4 linked regions of the Homo sapiens genome follow. The protein of the gene in region 3 purifies or fractionates together with the protein of the main gene of each other region. This does not show direct contact. Each region holds a gene or a part of one and is shown on either strand. Other genes may lie near its edges.

The links. Proteins that work in one complex are often made in the same cells at the same time.
Region 1: the proteins of METTL9 (region 3) and CD226 purify together in Homo sapiens (co-immunoprecipitation; one large-scale study listed by IntAct). This does not show direct contact.
Region 2: the proteins of METTL9 (region 3) and SLC39A6 purify together in Homo sapiens (co-immunoprecipitation; one large-scale study listed by IntAct). This does not show direct contact.
Region 4: the proteins of METTL9 (region 3) and MGAT1 purify together in Homo sapiens (co-immunoprecipitation; one large-scale study listed by IntAct). This does not show direct contact.

The regions. Positions count from the first base shown.
Region 1 is NC_000018.10:69,937,874-69,941,373, forward strand, and holds part of CD226 (CD226 antigen isoform a precursor), read right to left. Parts: intron 1-3,500.
Region 2 is NC_000018.10:36,126,541-36,130,778, forward strand, and holds the start of SLC39A6 (zinc transporter ZIP6 isoform 1 precursor), read right to left. Parts: upstream 2,801-4,238; 5' UTR 2,574-2,800; intron 477-2,573; 5' UTR 468-476; coding exon 1-467. Other genes in the region: ELP2 (elongator complex protein 2), read left to right, coding at 3,394-3,531. UniProt on the Homo sapiens protein: Zinc-influx transporter which plays a role in zinc homeostasis and in the induction of epithelial-to-mesenchymal transition (EMT).
Region 3 is NC_000016.10:21,612,341-21,617,246, reverse strand, and holds part of METTL9 (protein-L-histidine N-pros-methyltransferase isoform 1 precursor), read right to left. Parts: intron 4,603-4,906; coding exon 4,412-4,602; intron 1-4,411. UniProt on the Homo sapiens protein: Protein-histidine N-methyltransferase that specifically catalyzes 1-methylhistidine (pros-methylhistidine) methylation of target proteins.
Region 4 is NC_000005.10:180,792,807-180,796,306, forward strand, and holds part of MGAT1 (alpha-1,3-mannosyl-glycoprotein 2-beta-N-acetylglucosaminyltransferase), read right to left. Parts: intron 3,070-3,500; exon of another isoform or gene 2,075-3,069; intron 1,561-2,074; exon of another isoform or gene 1,461-1,560; intron 292-1,460; 5' UTR 166-291; coding exon 1-165. UniProt on the Homo sapiens protein: Initiates complex N-linked carbohydrate formation. Essential for the conversion of high-mannose to hybrid and complex N-glycans.

The sequences.
Region 1 (3,500 bases), on a different chromosome or scaffold from region 3:
TCTGGAGCCCTTAATATTAAAGGAATCTCTTTAGTGCCACTAACCAGCAGATATATACAAGAATGAAAGAAAACTTTGGCTGCTATGTCAGCTGCTGGGAACCTGGACAGAGAACACTTGTCCCTGAAGGGTGTAGAGATAAGAGCCTTCTAAGAATGAGCATGGATGGCATATAAGGAGCCTCATCCCACCTGGGAGAGAATGAGACTCTTAAAGGGAAACAGTGAGGAACATCTCTGTGCCCAGTTTGAGATAAATGGACTGGAATATGGGAGATCACAGAGTCAGCAAACATACAATACAGCCAACACAAAGTACCTGCATGTGTGGAGCAAGAAAATCTAACCCTCTACTATAAATATGAGTTCTATGTGTCTTCTGCTCTCACATCAATAATTCACCTGTTCACTTTCCTCTCCCTCCCAACTCTCCCCCTCTTTTCTCTATGCCCTCTACATTCTTTAACATGAACACCTTCTTTAACACACTACAATGTGACCATCCTCCAAGCCACAAGCTATGACCTTAGACTTCTGCCCCCATCCATTGGTACTTTCTTAGTTAACCCCATCCATCCACATGTGCTGGATGATCATTCAGATGACTTCAAATTGGATATTTTCAATCCTGGTTTGTTGTTCCATAATTTCAATTGTCAGCTGGTCAAAGGCTACTTTACAATTTAATACACCTGAAACAGACTTAATTCCACTCTTGCTAGCCAAGTTGGTCTCTTAATTTCACATCTTTTTCACTAAAATCATCATTTTTTAGTCCTTGGATCATAAAAATTTGAAACCATTGCTGAAACTTACCTCTACCTGGCCCCCAGGCCATATCAGAATGAAGATTTCATCCTTACCTTAGAGCTTTCAACTGCTCAAAAATTGCAATCACATCTCTTTTCACCATTAGAAATCAGTAGATTTGGCCAGGCAAGGTGGCCTATGCCTGTAATTCCAGCACTTTGGGAGGCCAAGGTGGGGTGGATCACCTGAGGTCAGGAGTTTGAGATCAGCCTGGCCAACATGGCAAAACCCCCATCTCTACAAAAATACAAAAATTAGCTGGGTGTGATGATGCAGGCCTGTAATCCCAGCTACTCAGGAGGCTGAGGCAGGAGAACCACTTGAACCCAGGAGGCAGAGGTTGCAATGAGCTGAGATCATGCCACTGCACTCCAGCCTGGGCAACAGAGTGAGACTCTGTCTCAAAAAAGGAAAAGAAAAAGAAATCAGTAGATTTGAAAGAAATCTTCTAAAACATTTTGAGACAAATGCAAAATAAAACACCTGTATAAGGAAAACACCCTGACTATGAGCCTTAAAGACCCTTTCAGCCCTTCCTGATTCTATTCTATCCCCCACCTACCATGTTTCTGAACTTTGCTTTTCTTTATAGTTTTACCACGTTTGTATCTATAAATAACGTATTGTTTAATTATGCATATTTCTAAAACCTTTAAAGAAAAGGAACCCTAGTTTACCTATTTTTTTTGGTAACTTGCTCTTTTCTTTCAACACAAAGTTCATGAGCTTCATCCATGTCGGTGAGCAAGTGATAATTCACTCATTTTAGTGATGTAGAGTATCCTAATGTGTGAATAGACCTCAGTGTGCTTTTCGGTTCTACTGTTGATGGGTATTTGGGTTGTTACCAATTTTTTGCTATTGCAATCACTGTTGCTATAAATATTGTCAGGAATTTTCCCTATAATGAGAGAACTCTTGGATACCAAACAGAGTAGAATTATTGGATCATAGGATTTGGGGTTTTTAACTAGCTAATGCCATATCATTTTCCAAAACAGGTATGATGGTTAATTTTACGTGTCAATTTGAAGGGTGTTTTGGGATGAGATTAACATTTAAATTGGTGAATTTTGAATAAGCAGTTTGCCTCCATAATGTAGGTGAGCCTAATTCAACAAAAAGACCAGCCTCCCCAAGCAAGAGGGATTCTGCAGCAGATGACCTGGGCTTCACCTGTACCATCGGCTCTCCTGGGTCTGCAGCCTGCAAGCCCACACTGCAAATTTGGGCTTATCAGTCTCCATGATCATATGATATAATTTGGCCGTGTGCCCACCCAAATCTCATCTTGAGTTGTAGTTCCCATAACCCTCACGTGTCGTGGGAGAGACCAGGTGGAGATAACTGAATCATGGGGGTGGTTTCCCCCATCCTGTTCTCATGATAGTGAGTTAGTTCTCATGAGATCTGATGGTTTTATAAGGGGCTTCCCCTGCTCTGGGCACTCACTCTTCTTCTCCCTGCTACCATGTGAAGGACATATTTGCTTCCCCTTCCACCATGATTGTAAGTTTCCTGAGGCCTCCCCACCCATACTGAACTGAGAATCAATTAAACCTCTTTCCTTTATAAATTACCCTGTCTCAGGTATGTCTTTATTAGCAGCATGAAAACTGAGTAATACAGTAAATGAGTACAGCAGAGAGTGGAGGGTTGCTGTAAAGATATCCACAAGTGTGAAAGCAACTTTGGAACTGGGTAACAGGTAGAGGTTGGAACAGTTTTGAGGGCTCAGAAGAAGACAGGAAAATGTGGGAAATTTGGGAACTTCCTAGAAATTTGTTGAATGACATTGACCAAAATGCTGACAGTGATATAAACAATGAAGTCCAGGCTGAGGTGGTCTCAGATGGAGATGAGGAACTTTTTGGGAAATGGAGTAAAGGTCACTCTTGCTATGCAAAGAGTTTGGTGGCATTTTGCCCCTGCCCCAGAGATCTGTGGAACTTTGAACTTGAGAGAGATAATTTAGGGTATCTGGCAGAAGAAACTTCTAAGGGGCAAAGCATTCAAGAGGAAGCAGAGCATAAAAAATTTGGAAAATTTGCAGCCTGATGATGCGACAGAAAAGAAAAACATTTTCTGGGAAGAAATTCCAGCCAGCTGCAGAAATTTGCATAAGTAATGAGGAGCCAAATGTAAATCACCAAGACAATGGGGAAAATGTCTCCAAGGCATGTCAGAGACCTTCATGGCAGCCCCTTCCATCATAAGCCTAGGAGGGAAAAGTGATTTCCTGGGCCAAGCCTAAGACCCCCTGCTCTATGCAGCCTCGGGACTGCATATGGTGCCCTATGTCCCAGCCACGGCTAAAAGGGGCCAACATACAGCTCAGGCTGTTGCTTCAGAGGGTGCAAGCCCCAAGCCTTGACAGCTTACACGTGGTGTTGGGCCTGCGGGTGCACAGAAGTCAAGAACTGTGGTTTGAGAACCTCTGCCTAGACTTCAGAAAATGTACAGAAACACCTGGGTGTCCATTCAGAAGTTGCTGCAAGGGCAGAGCCCTCATGGAAGACCTCTGCTAGGGCACTGCAGCAGGGAAATGTGGGGTTGGAGCCCCCACACAGAATCCCCACTGGGGCACTGTCTAGTAGAGCTGTGAGAAGAGGGCCACCATCCTTCAGACCCCACAATCTGAATCTGATCCACAGACGGCTTGCACCATGCAACTGGAGAAGCCACAGACAC
Region 2 (4,238 bases), on a different chromosome or scaffold from region 3:
TTACCTGAACTATCTGAGTCATGGTCTGGGCAAAGAGCTTTTCGCTTATTTTTACCAGAAGCAGCATGATTATGGTGAGAGTGATGATCATGGTCAGAGTGATGCTCGTGCTCTGAGTGATGCTCATGGTCTGAGTGACGCTCATGGTCTGAGTGATGCTCGTGGTCTGAGTGATGGTCGTGGTCATGGTGTATATGGATTCTTTTAATCTTATCTATGCCTATATTTTGAAGTAATTTTCTGAACCCTTCAACTGACAAAGAATTATTTTCTCCATAGCGGTAGAAAAGCTGTTGTAGATGATATTGCCGTGTGGAAATTGCCAAGTCAACATTAATGCCAGATTCCCAATTCGGACTAATTTTCTCAGTGGTCTGGGGGAAAGCAGCTGCTTTTAGTTCATGAAGGGGATTTGTGACAGAGAGGGCAAAGGTCAGGATCAAGATTACAGATAACTTCCTCGCCATTGCGCCTTCCTAGAAAAGACAGGAAAAAAAAATTCTTGACTCACTTCTAAAACAAATTGAATTAAGAAACCTCATACTGAAAATTAATGTGTAATCAAATAATCAAAGTTGCCAGAGCATCATGTGGTGTGACCAGTGTGACGCTAGGTACTGTGAAGATGGAAAGAACTAGAGTCCTAGGCTCTACCCTTGCATTCCTAAAACACATGAAACAACTGGAGAAGAGCTGAGTGCTAAGAGACTGCCATTAGCACTGTAAAAGCAATAGTAATTCAGAGACAAGGGAGATCCATGTGGCCACAGCCATCAACTGCTTACTGAAGTTGAGAATTTATTTGAACGATTATTTGAATCATTGAGGCCAATGATTCATAATTAAATCTAGGCTGGGTGTGGTGGCTCATGCCTATAATCCCAGCACTTTGGGAGGCTGAGGCAGGCAGATCACCTGAGGCCAGGAGTTTGTGACCAGCCTGGGCAACATTGTGAAACCCTGTCTCAAAAAAAAAAAAGAACGAAATGAAATCTAGCTACCTTGATCATCACCATCATTTCATAAAATAACCTTCAAACACCAAAAAATAGAAATAATAATCTCAGAATTCACATATTTAAAAAATTTTAAACTAATACACTCTCCTTACATACAAGCCCATTTAAGACCCCTTTCCCCAATCACAATCCTCAAAGGTGCTCAATTTTGCCAGTGTATCCCTCAGGATATTTTCTATGCATACTCAAATACATGTATACTTAATTTTTTTTTTAAAGTTTTTTTTTTTTTTTTCTAGAGACGAGGTCTCACTATGTTGTCCGGGTTGGTCTTGAACTCCTGGCCTCAAGAGATCCTCCACCTCCAATTCCCAAAGTGCTGGGATTACAGGCGTGACCACTACGCCCAGCCTCAAATAAGTGTATACTTTAAATACACATTGAATCTTTTTTCCGACTTGACAATGAATCAGACACATTATGTCCATACATAGAATTCTTAAAGTAAACTGAACTTCATGAAAAACTCACTGTAGCATCCTTGTGTTACTACAAACCAGTCAACATTTAATCACAGGCTGTTAATCATCCACAGTAGTGTTTGGAACCAAAGGCCTGTGCCCCAAAGAGGAGGAAGCAATTGAGTTGGAGCTTGAAAAGCAGAATTCAGTTAAGCAGAGCCAGAATTCAGTTAATTCAGATCCAGCAGGATGTCCAGCACCAACGGTGGAGGTGATGGTGGTCAAACTCACATCTCCAGCAAAAGACGCAGACGTCAAGTTTACAACTAAGCAAGAGCATGGGGCTATCCAGCTCTACCACGGTCAGCTGTTCTTTGGACAGGGCTCTCGCATTCATTACCTTATCTAAAATACCGGTAAAACCTATTTTGCAAGGCGAAGGAGGAAAACACATGAAGGAATGTATATTACAAGTACTCGTTAAACTCATGTGTTGCACAAGTGCGAGGTATCATACAGGGAACAGTGGGAAATGGAGGTACGGCGTAGAACGAGGCTCCTGAAAGAGGAATCTTTGGGGCTTGAAGTTTCGGGAATTCTTTTACTAGGTAAAAGATAAACATTTAGAAATCATTCCCAGGAGAGAGGCGAGGAGCGGGGTGGGAGGGGACTAGCACAGGGGACAGCTCCGAGCCTTTCTCCAGGGAGGATGCTGAGCGCGGTCGTGGACCCGTTGAAGGATCTCCTTTCCTGCAAGTTGGTGTGTGCTGGAGGAAAAAGGAAAGCAGAAGGGAAGGGCCTTAGAGAAAAAGGCGAGTACAGAAAACGGAAAAGAGGGCACAAAGCTCTCTTCTAAAAGCTTTTTATTTCTAAACACGTCAGTCCCTTCTTCGAATATGGGATGAAAAGTACGGATCTTTTCCTCAAAAAATCCTCCGTTGCACCCCGAAGCCCATCTGAGCACCTTAAGAAGTCCGGCTCTCTAGGGTGAGTGGGCGCCTGCGGCGGGCTCCCCCCAGCATCCTCTTTCTGTAGCCCCCCTGCCCGGTCCGCAGGATCCGGTTCTCCGCAGAACCACCCCTACCCCGCCACGCCTGTCTGGCCTGAGGAGCTCCCCTCCCAGCCGCCCTGCTCCCGGACCTGAAAGACTCACGTCTCCGCGGCCTCGTTGTCCCACGGCCCGGCCACGCGCGCAGGTTTGGTTCCACACGGGCGGTCCAGAGGGCTCGGAACGGGCCCACTGGTGTCTTCGAGAAATCTCTACCAGGCGCGAACACGCGGTGGTTTCATTGGGTTGGCTGCCCCTCGGTCCGGGGGCAGCGCCGCGCAGCCACCCGGCAGCCGCGCCCCTAGCCTTCGCGAAGCTGGAAGACAATCACTAATTACCGCCGCGCGCAGCGCCGCGGGGAACCACCGCCCCCTTCGCCCAGGACTGCAGGGCATGCGCAGTGCGACCCCGGAACCCGGCTCCGCAGACGGATCCGCTTTTCCGTGTGTTCGCCGACGCCGCGGGGGCGTGGCGCGGCCCTAGCGCATTGTAAGCAGTTGGGGGTCATTTCCTCGAGGCCCTACTCGCTAGCCAGCGCCCCCGGGGCCAGCCCTGGCTGCTGCTGGGAGCCGGGTCGTAAGGGGCAGCGAGATGTTTCTGACGCTGCCCCAGGCACATGAGCCCCGGGTCCTTCGGGAGGGTCCCGAGCCACTCGGGTCGGATTTCGCTCTTGAGACAAAGGCCTGGCTCGTTCGCGGAGCGGGGCCACGGTCCAAGAGCAGAGCTAGCAAAGCGGCGGCCTTGCACAGGGGTTCCAGCCTGCGGTGGGAACGGAGAGTCTCAGGGGGGCGGGGCTGCCTCCGTCTGGCCCTCGGCTGGCTGCGAAACGTGGACTGGGTGATGCCTCAGGAGAAACCACCCTAGTAGTTCCGCTCCGAGGGCGGAAGTGCGCGTCTCTTGTTTGTGCGGCTGACCAGTTGGCGACATGGTGGCACCCGTGCTGGAGACTTCTCACGTGTTTTGCTGCCCAAACCGGGTGCGGGGAGTCCTGAACTGGAGCTCTGGGCCCAGAGGACTTCTGGCCTTTGGCACGTCCTGCTCCGTGGTGCTCTATGACCCCCTGGTAAGAGAGGTCGCTGGACGGCCGACCCTTGTGCTTTTCGGGTTGAACCTGTGGACGTGCTCCGGGCGCGCTGTTAGTTGCCGCCCCAGACCTAGGAGGCGAGTCGGGTCGGCTCAGGGGAGCGGGGTTTGGGCTCGGAGTCTCCAGTGGACCTGCCGGACTCGCTCCTCACCCCTCACCCTTTGCCGTCTCACGCGTGGCGTCATCCTAGGGTCATTGCTGCCCATGAGCTGCTAGTAACCTGTTAGTCCCACGCAGAAACCCGAATGATAAGCATCTTACCTGAAGCCTTCCTTGGGAACTGTAGTACCGTTAATCAATTTGGGTTTTAAAACAATTGAAATTTATATGTAGATTAAAACCATCATCCCACAGGTGCAATCTCATTTCAGTATTTCCTTCAGTTTTGGTTAATGAACTTTTGTTGTATTGAATTTCAAGGAAATGTTACCTGTGTTTTAGCTACGGGAATGGACATTTTAGAGAAAGTGTCAGTTTGGGGGAAAGGTCATAGGGGATGGGGATCCTAAGCACTGATTATAAGGCGGGACTTCCCTCGACTTCACCCAGTCAGTTGGTTATTTTCTTGGTGCTTTCCTCACCATATTTCTCAAGTGAATAGTTTTTGCATGCTCCCCGGAATTCATTATAACTCCATTCCCAATGGCTAAGTTGGTCTATACAGTTAGTCTTGCATCTCAAAAGGA
Region 3 (4,906 bases):
AGGGGTTTCACCATGTTAGCCAGGATGGTCTCGATCTCCTGCCCTCGTGATCCACCCGCCTCTGCCTCCAAAGTGCTGGGATTACAGGCATGAGCCACCGTGCCCAGCAAAGATATTATCTTTTATGTCATTTCTATGATTAGAAGACAAAGTTAATAAAATAAGAAAATGCCTCCAGATACCATTTGTCTTTGGAGTTGCAAATAATGCCCCAAAAAAGCATGGGAGGAGGGAAATAAAAGGTGGAAAGTGGAAAGGATGACAGGGGAAGGAAGAAGAAATAAGTAAGAGATGAATGTGAAGAACTTAAGTCAAAATAGGAAGGAAAAGTGGAAGGAGTAACAGAAAACATGTTTATCAGTTGAAAAAGATGACAAGCTAACACAGCCAGACCACAGTAGCAGAGAAACCAAATAGGAAAAAAAAGTGATTTCAAATATGGAACTAAACCATGGATCAGGAAAAAAGAGCTTTAGTATAACAGATTTTTAAGAGACACTAGAGAAAAGAGGGAAAAGAGTGGTCCTTGTGATGTCGGTTAATATGCATTAAAGTAGATTCGTACTTATGTCAGTTTATATGGTTACAACTGTCTGGGTCCTATTATTTCTAAAGGTCCTAGAAAACACTCAAAACCATAGTGATGCCTTTGAAAAAAGAGACTGAGGGGAGTTTAACTGGAGATTGAAGAGAACCCTCAGAAAAGCAACTATAGGTCCAGCCAAGTCTCATGGAAGCATCACTCTGGGAAATAAAGCGCAATCCCTATTTAGGACTTGTTTTCTAGCTCTGAAATTCTAGTTTATCTAGGACAGGGATTCTCAACCCTCCTTTAAGCAGCAGAACCCTTTCTTTAAATGAAGTGGAACTCACAGATAACATAAGATCCTAAGAGAGCTGCTGCTGTTCGAATGAGGTTGGGAGCCCAGGAGCTGTGGCCAGCCCACTTCTAGGCCTTTCTCTGCAGCCTGAAGCAGTTCCTGAGGCACTTCCTCCTCAGACCCTAGAAAACAGTTTGGGGACCACTGGTCCAGGAAGTGGCAGGGAAACCTGTTCTGTACTGCTGCTCTCTGGAAACAATCATAAGGTACAGAATGTTTGCTGCTATACAGTGACTGGAAAGATGCATGCAACACGGTGCCCAAGGTAAGACCAGTTTTAGGAAAAAATACAAATAATGGAGTTCATGTAACAAAGTCCCCCTTCCTTTTCCCATTAAGGCCATAGGAGAGTTTAACCAAGTTTACAGTAAATCTTCTGCCCCCATAGAAATGCTAAAAATTTGGAGAAAGACCTCAGAGACCACTAAACGTGATGCTACCGACTACAACTGCTTACCAAAGAAAATCACGTCTCATAAAAGACAAGTTGTTTTAATCCTCAATTGTTCATATATTACAGTAAGAAAATAAGCAAATCTGAACTTGCTGAAGTAGCTGTACAAAATTTAACACAGAAACCAGTCACAGCAGAAAGAGGCTACTGGCAGCATGGCTGAGGGGAGGCGAATTTCAAATACTGATGCTGACTTGCCACAGGACCAAAAGTAAGTCACAAAATAGTTATTTTGCTTAAATTTTCCCAGAGCGTGCTTCCCAAGCCATCTCCTTGGGATGTGAGGAATCTTGACATGATAATTATAAAATTCTAGAACAAGAGGTCACCTGAGCTCAGAGCTCACAAGTTCATCTGACTGGTCTACATTTATAGGCACTAGAGGCTGGGCATGGTGGCTCACGTCTGTAATCCCAGCATTTTGGGAGGCCGAGGTGGGAGGATCTCTTGAAACCAGGTGTTTGAGACCAGCTGGGCAACATGGTGAAACCCCGTCTCTATAAAAAATACAAAAATTAGCCAGGCACGGTGGCATGAGCCTCTAGTCCCAGCTACCTGGGAGACTGAGGCAGGAGGACTGCCTGAGCCTGAGGAGGTCAAGGCTGCAGTGAGCCATGATTGTGACACTGCACTCCAGCCTAGGCAACAGAGCGAGACCCTGTCTCCAAAAAAGAAAGAAAGAAGGCACTAGAGAAAGAGGGGAAGCATTGTCCTATTTCGAAAGAACATTAGCAACAGGGGCTCTACAAAAAGATTAACACTGTCAAAAAATAAATCAAAATCCATCAAGCCCAGTGTTTATCAACCAGGATTGATTTTGCCCTCTAGGGGGCAATGGGAGTAGACAGGAGAGTTTCCAGTAATCACAAGGACCTGGGGGTACTACTGCCATTTAGTGGGCAAGGCCAGAAAAGTTAGACTTCCTGCAGTGTGGGGGGCAGTCTCGCACAATGAAAAACAGTATCACCTAAAATACTGAGCCCAATACAAAGTTTCCCATAAACACAAACCATGAAGAGATATGACCCTCTAATTTGGGTTTAACTTTAGTGTTTAATAACCATCCTAGGTTCTCTGATCACAATCTAAGTTCTCTCTAGACTTAAGAGTCTACGGAGAGATGCACCTCTTCCTTATAAAATAAACTCTGGAACATCTACTAAGTCTTTCCTTACTTGGCCTTCTCCTTTCCAAAATAAAGGAAGTTTGATAAGTATCCTAAGGTAATACAAGACAGTACTACAGTAATGATTTCTGTGAGAGATGGCCACCTGTAGTAATTATCTCCCACTGCCATGACCGGAAAGTACTGATGGGCCCTAAAATTTAGTTTTTAGCTGAGAATGGGACACAAGGCAAGAAGGACTGAAAGCAGGGTGGGTATCAGAAGGAAAAAGCAGAAGAGTTTTAAGTAAGGGAAGCCAAAAGGGGTTTATTAACTGCATTGCCTCTTTGATCAAACTGTGAAATTCTAGAGCACGGAATTTTAACCAGGGTCTTATGGGTAGAGGAAAGGGGAAATAAAAGTTTGAAGCCCCCAAAATCATACACAAAATGTTGAATGTAAGCACTTTTTGAAGAGAGGATTCCTACCTTTATCACTTTCAAAGAGCTACAGGACCCCAGAAAGGATAAGAATCTCTGCTACAGTGACTCATCTGAATTCCAAAGGAAGAATAAATGGTATAGAACAGAAATTCAATATAACCAATTTAAGGAACAAAATGTCAGACCAAGTTGTATCAACTCAACCACCCATATAAAAATAACAACTGTTTGCCAAAGCAAACGTATGGCAATTTCACATAAACAATGAAGAAAATCAACTGAGAAATCTTGAGAAATGGCTTGCGGTGCCTGAAGACTTAGGACCAGATGATACACTGGGGATCCAGTCAGTCAGTAGAAACTGCTCCAAACCTCAAGGGAAAAGAAAAGTGGGCCCAACCAGTGGTTTGAGTGGTCCAATGAGGCTTCTTAACCATTGAGCCTGTTGCTTTTCTCTTTGGCATTTTAGATTCTAGGTCCTTAGGAATGCTTGAAAACATGGCCAAGAAAGGATTGAAAAAAAAAAAAAACAAAAAAAACTCCTAAAGCTTTTTCTATGGATTTATATGAGGGAACCACTCTGGGGACAGAGAATTCCACAATAAGTTCATAAAATTCTGGTGAACCTAGACATTATTTAAGAACAGATGCAGGACTCTTCACTCAAAATAAGCCATCATCCACTGTTGGGCTGACTAATTATATCTCCCAAAAAAAATTTGCCACTGCGAAGTATGTTTAAGGCAAAGATCTTACTTTTCAGCCTAAGGGCGTAAAGCCCTCAGCTTCAGGGCTTGGTTCCAGGAGTCTTGCTACTTTGTGGTCCAGAACCAGCAGCATTCAGCATCACTGGCATCGTCTAAGAGCTTGTTAAAAATGCAGACTCTCCAGGTGCAGTGGCTCCCACCCATAATCCCAGCACTTTGGGAGGCAAAGGTGGATGGATCACTTGAGGTCAGTTAGAGACCAGCCTGGCCAACATAGAAACCTCGTCTCTACTAAAAATACAAAAATTAGACAGGTGTGGTGGTGCACACCTGTAATCCCAGCTACTTGGGAGGCTGAGGCATGAGAATTACTTAAACCCGGGAGGCGGAGGCTGCAGTGAGCCCAGATTGCCACTGCACTCCAGTCTGGGAAACAGAGCAGGACTGTCTTTAAAAAAAAAAAAAAAAAAAAAAAAAAAAAAAAAAAAGCAGACTCTCAGACCTAGCCCCTGATGTACTAACTCATAATCTGCATTTTAACAAGACCCCCAGGTGATTCCTATGTACATCAAAGCCAAGAAGCACTACCGTAAGTAACTCCCGCTATGAATAAACATACTAATGAGGCTGTCACGTTATGGTGAATTTAAAGGGCAGAACCACAGAAAGATAGAACGCTGGACCAACTGCCAAGGTTCTGACTAGTAGAAGTATTGTAGCTCAGGTAGTCAACATGCTGAACAAGATAACTTTTCTTTTTGTGTTTTTCCTTTTGTAAACCTAAGGATAAAGAAAAAAATAAATGTCCAAGATTCACTTACCCATTGATAGATGTTCTAGACATAAACAGGCTAAAAACAGATGACACAAAAGAATGATATAATTGGATAAATAGCCAGCCCGATTTCTCAATGCTGTTGTTTAAGAAGATCTGTGTTCCTTGATCAAGGTAACTCTGAACAAAGACAGCCTGGAGTGATTCGCATAATTTCTCTCTGTTGCACACATACCACTAAAAAAAAAAAAAAAAAAAGAACAAAAATTAAAACACACAACCGAAGTGTCACCTAAGAAATCCAAAAACAAAAAACCAGAAGACTAAATCACATCTAAGATTTCCAAATATTACCATCTCATGATACTCTGAGAATAATCATTTCGTATACTCATATAACCTATAAAATATAAAGTACTTCTTCAGACATGACTTCTCATTTAATTCTCTTACAGCCCTCAAGGTAGGTAGAGTGGGTGAGGGAAGGGTGGAGAGGCTTTTGGGTCATTCAGCTTAGTAGGCAGCAGAACCAGACCACAGC
Region 4 (3,500 bases), on a different chromosome or scaffold from region 3:
AATCACTTCCCGGGTGAGGCTGGCGGGGTCGCCATCGAGAGCGCTGACTGAGGGTGGCCTGCCAGGTGCTGGGCGCGTCCAGAAGAAGAGGAGCAGCAGGGCATTCCAGGCCACAAAGAGGATAGCGCCCCACAGCACAAGCCCTGCAGACTGCTTCTTCAGCATCCTGGCCCCCACCGGGGAGGGCAGGCCAGGGGACGGTTCAAGGCTGCCCTGGGCTTGCCCGGCTCCCTTGCCCGCAGTCCTAGGGATGCCTCCTCTGGACTATGGGATTAGGAGGCAGCCATGCACCTAAAGACAGGAGAGAGAAAGCAAACCGTCACACAAAGGCTCGTGGCTCCATGCCCCACAGGTAGAGGAAATGGGGGCAGGAAAAGGCCAAGAGTGAGGGTGGAGGAAGGCCAGGAGGTTGACTCCAGAGCTCTCTAGGGAGTCAACATATATCCTGACCCAGGAACGTATTTTTGAGGGAGAGGCAGAGAGTGATGCTGGTGGAGGGAGAGAGAAAAAGAACCCCAACTCCCCTCTTTCTACCTGTCAGATTTCATTTCCCCTCCAGGTGGGAAGGAGGAGGGGAGGGGCAAGGAGTGACAGCATCTGCCTACCATTCCTCTAACCTAAGCGCCCCAAGATGACTGATTTTTAAAATCAAATGTCCCACCTCAGGGCTACAGTTAACCCCTTACCAACAGGGAAGCACCAGAGGCACCCCACGAATGTCAGGAGCAAAACGAAGTTGCCCATCATCTCCAGGGTTATTTAACATTTTGCTGGAGGAAGCAGCCAATGCAAATGAACCAAGAAAAAAAAATTCAAAGCAGAAGTGGAAAGGAAGCAAACTATTTCTATTATCTTTACTTGTGAGAATATGCCTGGAAAACTCAAAAAGAATCAATAATGAACTGAGCAAGGAAGTGTAATATAAAAATCAACATATACTAATGGATAGCCTTCATATCCACAAATAACTCATGAGAAGAAAACATGGATGAGAAAACCCTACTTACAAAAGCCAGAGAAATGAGAAAATATTTAGAAATAAACTTAAATAAACTTAAACATTCAAAACTTATGTGAACAAAACTATCATTCCTGAAAGACACAAAAGAACATCTGAATATCCCTTGTTCTTGGTCAGGACATTTCAGCATCATCAAAAATCCCAATAAAAATACCTTTTTATGGAGCTAGACGAACTGACAGTAAAGTTCACATGAAAAACTAGGAAAACAATAAAAATAAGCTGTGAGGAGGGACTCAGCCCTACCAGATATGAAAATACTGCATACTGGCCAGATGCAGTAGCTCCTACCTGCAATCCCAGCACTTTGGGAGGCCAATACAGGAGGATCACTTGAGCCCAGGAGTTCAAGAATAGCCTGGGCAGCACACGGAGACCCTGTCTCTACAAGTAACAATTAAAAAAAAAAAAAAAAAAAGCTGGGCATGGTGGCACGCACCTGTGGTCCCAGCTACTCAGGAGGCTGAGATGGGATCACCTGAGTCTGGGAGGCTGAGGCTGTAGTGAGCTGTGATTGGATTGTGCCATTGCACTCCAGCCTGGGCAAGAGAGTGAGACTCTGTCTCAAAAAAATTTTTTTTTATTATATATATATATATATGGCATACTACAAAACCTCCATAATTACAACTGCGTGGTACTGGTACATAAATAAACAGACCATCCAGTGAAATAGAATTTAAGCTCCAGAAACAGACTCATTACACAAAAAAATCTAATATGTAATAAAGGTGCTACTTAAAATTCCCAAGGCAAAGATGGTCTTATTAATAGTGTTATAATAATTACGTAGCTATGCTATAGCTTGAATATGGTTTGTTCTCTGAAACACATGTTGGGATTTGATCCCCTGTGTGGTGGTGCTGCCGGAGGTGGGGTCTAGTGGTAGGTGTTTGGATCACAAGGGGGGCAGGGGCAGATCCTTCCTAACGTCCTCTGGTGAGTGAGCTAGTTCCCCAGGGATAACAGGCTGTTATAACCAAGCCCAGTCTCTCCTGCATGCCCCATTTCTTTCTACTTTCAGCCATGTCCCTACAAAAACCTACACAGGAGTGTTGATGGTAACTTTATTCATAATCACTCAAAACTGGAAATAACCCAAAGGCCCATCAACAGGGAAATACAGATAAACAAATTGTGGTTTACTCATAGAATGGAATAATATTCAGCAATAAAACTGAATAAACCACTGACATACACAACACAATCTCCAAATAATTACACAATATGGGTCTTTTTGGGAAAAACAAAAAAGAGCACATACACTGTGATTCCATTGACATAAAACTGCCGAAAATAGAAACTAATCTATATTACAGAAAGCAGATCAGTTGTTGCCTGGGGATGGAGGCAGAGAAGGGCAGTAGGGTAGTTACTACACAGGGGCATTAGGAAGCTTCTAGAAGGGTGGATATGTTTATTATCTTGATTGTGGTGATACTTTTACAGGTATATATATATATATATATATACACACACACACATATATGTCAAAACTTATCAAATTGTACACTTTATATGCAGTTCTTTGCACATATTGATATCAATTGTATGTCAATGAAACCTCAAAAAACTTTTTTTAAAAAGACGTTATTGGGTAAAATGACAAAGGTGGAATATGGACAGTAGGTTAAAGTATCAGTGATAACTGATTAATTCCAATTCTTAGGTAATACACACTGAAGTATTGAGAAGTAGAGGACCAGGATAGATGCAACTTCTCAAATGGTTCAGAACAAAAACATACTCTGCACACATAGAGAGCAAATGGAGCAAAATATTAACAGGTGAATCTGAGTAAAGAGAGTGTGTACGAATATCCTTATACTATTTTTTATTCTTGCAATTTGTGTAAGTTTGAAGCTATTTCCACACGAAGTTTCTTGACAATCAAATATGTAGATATTGCCCATAGCTCTGAAGAGCTTCATCCATCAGCGTAATCCCAGCTGGCACATCAGCAAGGCAAATTGAGATGATCTGTTTGCCCTGAATTCCTCGGTCAGTCACCTGACGACGTGTATCACACACCTGCTCTCTGCCAGGCTCTGGGAAGGAACCAGGACACAAACCAGTGAGAAAAAGGCATGGTCCCACCAATCCTCCAAGCTCTACCAGACCACATTACTTGAAAGGATCTGAAACACTCCCCAATTCCCAGCCAGCTGCCACTCCAGACCATAACTCCTTGACTGTCCTGCCTCTGGTCTACCCTTTACACCCCAAAGCTTCAGGCGTGCACCCTCTTACACCAACAGCTCTGCCAGTTGCCCTCTGCCTCACAGGCTACTCTCTAATCCTGGCCAAAACCTTGGGCCTCAGATCTAACCTCTGAGGCTCTGGGCTCTCAAACCAGCAGATCTGGTATAAAAGGGCTGATCCTGAAGGGCCTCTAAAGAGACATGGATTCTGTCTCCCTCCTGGGGAGACTTCACCAGCCCCTGCCAGCATTCACCACCAACCACTTGTCTTCTTCCTA